Linked DNA regions of Homo sapiens: region 2 is linked to region 1. A link means that fine-mapping ties the variant in region 1 to the plasma level of a protein whose gene starts in the linked region. Region 1 holds a variant in brackets. A gene starts in the other region. All regions are shown on their reverse strands.

Region 1 (2,910 bases):
CATCTTAATATCAATTACTTTATAAAAATTAACCTGTGCCTGGCTGGGCGCAGTGGCTCACACCTGTAATCCTAGCACTTTGGGAGGCCGAGGCGGGCGGATCATGAGGTCAGGAGATCAAGAGCATCCTGGCTAACACGGTGAAATCCCGTCTCTACTAAAATACAAAAAATTAGCCGGGCCCTGTAGTCCCAGCTACTCGGGAGGCTGAGGCAGGAGAATGGCGTGAACCCAGGAGGCGGAGCTTGCAGTGAGCCAAGATAGTGCCACTGCACTCCAGCCTGGGCAACAGAGCGAGACTCCGTCTTAAAAATAAAAATTAACCTGTGCCTGAGGCTCTAGAGTCCAATGGTACAAAGCAGTAATTGGTCAAAGTTCAACCTCCCTCCCACTCTGGGCTCGGACTGTGCCCTGAGGGCTTGTGTTTTGAATCTCTTTCCAGAACCTTGGCATGAGCTTGGGACTGGGTGTCTGGATCACTTCATCACACCCAGGTCACCTGCTGCAAGGTTAAGACCAACTTGGCCCAACAGAGAAAGCTGGCAACCCTACATCATTTTAAAACAGCTTCATCGGCTGGGCGTGGTGGCTTATGCCTGTAATCCCAGCACTTTGGGAGGCCAAGGCGGGTGGATCACTTTAGGTCAGGAGTTCGAGACCAGCCTGGCTAACGTGGTGAAACCCCGTCTCTACTAAAAATACAAAAATTAGCTGGGCATTGTGGTGTGTGTCTGTAATCCCAGCTACTTGAGAGGCTAAGGCAGGAGAATCACTTGAACGCAGAGGTGGAGGTTGCAGTGAACTGAGATTGTGCCACTGCACTCCAGCCTGGGCAACAGAGCAAGACTCAGTCTCAAAAATAAATAAACGGTTTCATCAGGATGTAATTCACATACCATACAGTGAGCCAACTTAAGGTGTACAAGTAAATAAGTCAATGGTTTTTGGTGTGTTACCTTTTTTTTTTTTTGAGACGGAGTCTCACTCTGTCGCCCAGGCTGGAGTGCAGTGGTGCTATCTCAGCTCACTGCAAGCTCCGCCTCCCGGGTTCACACCATTCTCCTGCCTCAGCCTCTCAAGTAGCTGGGACTACAGGCGCCCGCCACCACGCCTGGCTAATTTCTTTTTGTATTTTTAGTAGAGGTGGGGTTTCACCATGTTAGTCAGGATGGTCTCAATCTCCTGACCTGGTGATCCGCCCGCCTTGGCCTCCCAAAGTGCTGGGATTACAGGTGTGAGCCACCGCGCCCAGCCACCTTATTTTTAAATTGTAATTCCATATATCCATACATATATGTATAACATAAACTTCACCATTTAGGCTTTTTTTTTTTTTTTATGAGAGAGAGTTTTGCTCTTGTTGCTCACTGCAGCCTCTGCCTCCTGGGTTGAAGTGAGTCTTCTGCCTCAGCCTCTTGAGTAGCTGGGATTACAGGTGTGCACCACCATGCCCAGCTAATTTTTATATTTTTAGTAGAGACGGGGTTTCACCATGTTGGCCAGGCTTGTCTCGAACTCCTGACCTCAGGTGATCCTCC[C/T]GCCTCAGCCTCCCAAAGTGCTGGGATGACAGGCGTGAGCCACCGCACCTGGCGCATTTAGGCATTTTTAAGCATACAATTCAGTGGCATCGCGTGCAGTGTTGTGCAACCATCACTCCAGCATCTTTCCAAAACTTTCATCACCCCAAACAGAAACTCTGGACCCGTTAAACAAACATTCTCCCCTCTCCAGCCTCCAGTCACCTCTGTTCTACTTCCTGTCTCTGTGGATCGGCTCGTCCTGGACATTTCCCAGAAATGGGATCACACACTGTGTGGCATTTTGTGTCTGGCTTCTGTCATTGAATGTGATGTCCTCAGCCTTCATCCACGCTGTGGCCTGTGTGGGAGCCTCGCTCCTTTTCTTTTTTTTGAGACAGAGTCTTGCCCTGTTGCCCAGGCTGGAGTGCAGTGGCGCAATCTTGGTTCACTATAAGCTCTGCCTCCCGGGTTCAAGCAATTCTCCTGCCTCAGCCTCCCAAGTAGCTGGGATTACAGGCATGTGCCACCATGCCGGCTCTTTTTTTTATATCTTTAGTAGAGACAGGTTTTCTCTTTTTTTTTGAGACGGAGCCTCACTCTGTCACCCAGGCTGGAGTGCAGTGGCACAATCTCGGCCCACTGCCAGTTCCGCCTCCTGGGTTCACACCATTCTCCTGCCTCAGCTTCCCAAGTAGCTGGGACTACTGGCGCCCACCACCATGCCCAGCTAATTTTTTTGTATTTTCCATAGAGACTGGGTTTCACCGTGTTAGCCAGGATGGTCTTGATCTCCTGACCTCGTGATCTACCTGCCTCGGCCTCCCAAAGTGCTGGGATTACAGACATGAGCCACCTCGCCCAGCCTTTTCATGGCTGAGTGATATTCCATTGTGTGGATGGATCACACTAGGTATATTTGTTCTTCTATTGATGGACATCTGGGTAGTTTCTACCTTTGGGCTGTTTGTTCTGTTGTGAGTCAGGCTGCTGTGACCATGGGTGTACAAGTATCTGTTTGCGTCCTTTTGTTGTTAATTCTTTGGGGCTTCTACCTAGGAGGGAGATTGCTGGTGATGTGATAAGTATCTCTCAGGCTTTTCAAGGAAGCACCAAACTGTTTTCTACCCCGAATGTAATTTACAATTTCCCAGCAATAGGCCAGGCACAGTGGCTCACGGTGACTCCATCTCAAAAAATAATAATAATTTTAAAAAGAAAGAAAGAAAGAAAACTTCCCAGCAACCACATTAAAAAAGAATACCAGGAAATTTAATGTTTTTCTTTTTCTTTTTTTTTTTTTTTTTTTTTGAGATGGAGTTTAGCTTTTGTTGTCCAAGCTGGAGTGCAGTGGCGCAATCTCAGCTCACTGCAACCCCCGCCTCCCGGGTTC
Region 2 (2,910 bases), not on the chromosome of region 1:
AAAGGCGACTGCCCCGGGCCCAGATCGCTGCCCGCCGCCCCGCTCCTGGAGGGCAGAGCACAGGCTGTGGGGCTCTCCGCGCGCGCCCCGGCCCGGTCCCGGGGAGCCGAACCCTCTCCGGACCGCGCCCCAAGCAGCGCCCGGGCGCCCTCTCCCCTGCCCGGCCGGAGCCGCGTCCCCCGCGCCCCGCGCAGCTCACCGCTCGTTGGCTGGCTCCGGACGGCTGCTGGCGAGGAGGTGCTGCGGGCGCCGGCGGGGCGGTGGCTCCGAGCCTCAAATACTCCCAGCCCCGCCCGGCCCGCCTCTCCCGAGGCGGGGCGGCGCCCCTGCCCAGCCAGTCCTCTCCCCGGACCAGGCTGGGCGAGCCCCGCGCCGGCCAGACACCCCGAGCCGCCGCCGCAGGGGCGACCAGGAAGCTCCCGACGGGGAGAGCGCGGGCACTGAGGGGCGCGACCTCCGCTGCCACCGTTAGGTTCCGTGGCGCTCCCGGGACCTGGGCTGCGGCCGCGTCTGTCCCCCGCCCTCTCCAGAATCACCTGAGTGAAGAATTCGCTGAGAGGAATTCAATTAATAGGTTGCTTTATTTGTAGAATACAAAACCAAAAATCTTTTCAATGTCTATTCCCTAGGGAACTGACTACAAATTGACTACTTATTCTAGATCAATAGGCCTAGTCTCAAAGCAATTCCCTTATAAAGCAATTAATCAGACAACTCTTTAACACATTTTACACAGGAAATTCACATTATATATATATATACCCTCCTTTTAACTTCACCTTATCTTTTTGTTGGAAGAAAGAGATAAGTATTATTATCTCATTTTTACTGTCAGGGTGCTATAGTCTGAATGTTTATATCCCGCCAAAGTTCATATGTTGAAATCCTAACCCTCACGGTGATGTATTAGGAAGTGGAGGCCTTGGGAAGTGATTAGGTCATAGGGGCAGGGTCCTTATGAATGAGATTGGTGCCCTAATAAAAGAGGCCGGAGAGAGACCCCTTGCCACTTCCACCTTGTGAAGACACAGCCAGAAGGCTCCCTCTGTGAACCAGAAAGCAGGCCCTCACCAGACATCAAATCTGCTGGCCTGGATCTTGGATTTCCCGACCTTCAGAACTGTGGGAAATAAATGTATATTGCCTATAAGCTACCCAGTTTATGATATTTTGTTACAGAAGCCCAAACAGACTAAAAGAGAAAATGATTTACTTATCCAAGCTCACTCATGTCTAGGAACAAAATCCAGAAATCCTGGCTCTTACACTTTACCTGGAAAAGCACCAGGCCAAAGAATCCTTGCAGGTTGGAACAAGGATCTCTGAGGAAAAAAAAAAAAATTAAGGGGGGTAGGGGAAGAATCTTTGCAGGGACTGGCTTATGTAAACTATGGAGAAAACCAGGTATCATCTGGTTCCTAAATAATTCCTGTAGCCCTTATAGTAACCAATTAATAACATAAAGATAAATTATTTCCTGCAGTTTTTCAACTTAGGGAAATGTTCCTGTGAAGGACTCACTTGATGGAATTGAGAAGCTGTCTTGGCATTCTCTAGGATAAACTTGAAAGTGTCTTAGTGGTTGGCACGGTTCCTGCAACATCGTCCCCTCTAGGCTTGCACATAGAAGTCACAGTGTGGCTGGGGATTATTTATGCAAGTTTGAACTCTTATCTGAAGAGGTAGCCTGGCAACCAATTTATTTGAATGGATCACCCATAGTAAATGACTAACCTCTGGGTAGTAAAAAGGTATCACCCAAAGGAATGCCCTTGGTCTCCAGGGAAAATGCTATAAATCTTAAGACTTTGAGTCATGAGGCCTCATGGCCAGGAGTGGTACCCTTAGAGGGTTAGCCATTGGTAATAAGAAAAGTAGATAGCCAAATGAATTGCTGTGGAGGCAAGGGATGAATCACACTCTTGCCTTTTCTTCTGGTCATTTCAGAGATAGACAAAGTTCATGCCCTGGCTACTTAGGGGGCTTGCTTACACCTGATTGTATGATCAGACATGCTTTTGGCTTCCCTTCCTTACTTGTACATCCCCATGAATACTTTGGTGCCAACTTCATGCCCCATAAAGCTAACAAAAGGATCCTGCTATGATCAGGGTGTGCCTGGGAATTTATAATTTGTACACATGCAATAAACGGCTCTTTATTACCCAATCCAAAGTCACATCCCTTTTCTAAGATAAGCGTAAAAAGGAACCCAATAAAATCAATTAAGATATCATTGAGTAACTTCTATGTACAGCTCACTGTGTTATTTGAAATAGGGACAAGGCAAGTGTTAGCCCTCAAACAAAAAGGCTGTCTGGTTTCTACGGATGCAGAGATTGTAAGCCGCTGATAAAAGCAAGGATTCTAAGAGAGGCATCTCCACAGGAGGGAAAGGAGGAAACTTGGGAAAGCAGGTGGCTGTCCAGAAGGTCAGGAGGGAAGCTGCGTGAGAACTTCAGTTAGAGCCAGAAGAGAGTAGGAGATGAAGATGAGAACAAAAAGGGAAAGTCTTTAAGGATAAGCAGAAAAGAGAAAGAAAGACAGTAATTGGAGAAGAAAGCAGAGCCGATTATTTATTTATTTATTTTATTTTTTTGAGACGGAGTTTTGCTCGGCTCACCGCAACCTCCACTCCCAGGTTCAAGTGATTCTCCTCCTGCCTCAGCCTCCCCAGTAGCTGGGATTACAGGCATGCACCACCACCCTGGCCAATTTTTAGTAGAGATGGGGTTTCTCCACGTTGGTCAGGCTAGTCTCAAACTCCCTACCTCAGGTGATCTGCCCACCTCAGCCTCCCAAAGTGCTGGGATTACAGGCGTGAGCCACTGCGCCCGGCAGCAAAGCCAGTTTTTTAAAGTCACCTTTTAAATAGGAAAATAGAACCAGAGAGAAAGGAAAAAGAGAGGA

Alleles and levels. Alleles are on the strand shown, and positions count from the first base shown. The strength of an association depends on the size of the effect and on how common the allele is.
As copies of C replace T in region 1, the plasma level of the protein whose gene starts at base 248 in region 2 goes up (weak association).

What was found. PIP is the chance, under the fine-mapping model, that this variant and not a neighbour inherited with it causes the effect. Protein levels are from antibody-based Olink assays in UK Biobank. Linkage for the fine-mapping came from a reference panel and not from the study's own genotypes, which makes the PIPs less certain.
Region 2: LGALS3 starts here. The variant in region 1 is fine-mapped to the plasma level of the LGALS3 protein (UK Biobank, PIP above 0.99).

The regions. Positions count from the first base shown.
Region 1 is chr19:5,869,985-5,872,894 of GRCh38, reverse strand. It overlaps FUT5 (fucosyltransferase 5), which reads left to right and starts at 2,355. Exons shown (of 2, transcript NM_002034.2): 1 at 2,355-2,430. RefSeq lists an enhancer at 1,603-1,897. The variant C/T (reference allele first, on the strand shown) is at 1,539.
Region 2 is chr14:55,126,590-55,129,499 of GRCh38, reverse strand. It overlaps LGALS3 (galectin 3), which reads right to left and starts at 248. Exons shown (of 6, transcript NM_002306.4): 1 at 200-248. RefSeq lists a silencer at 1-552.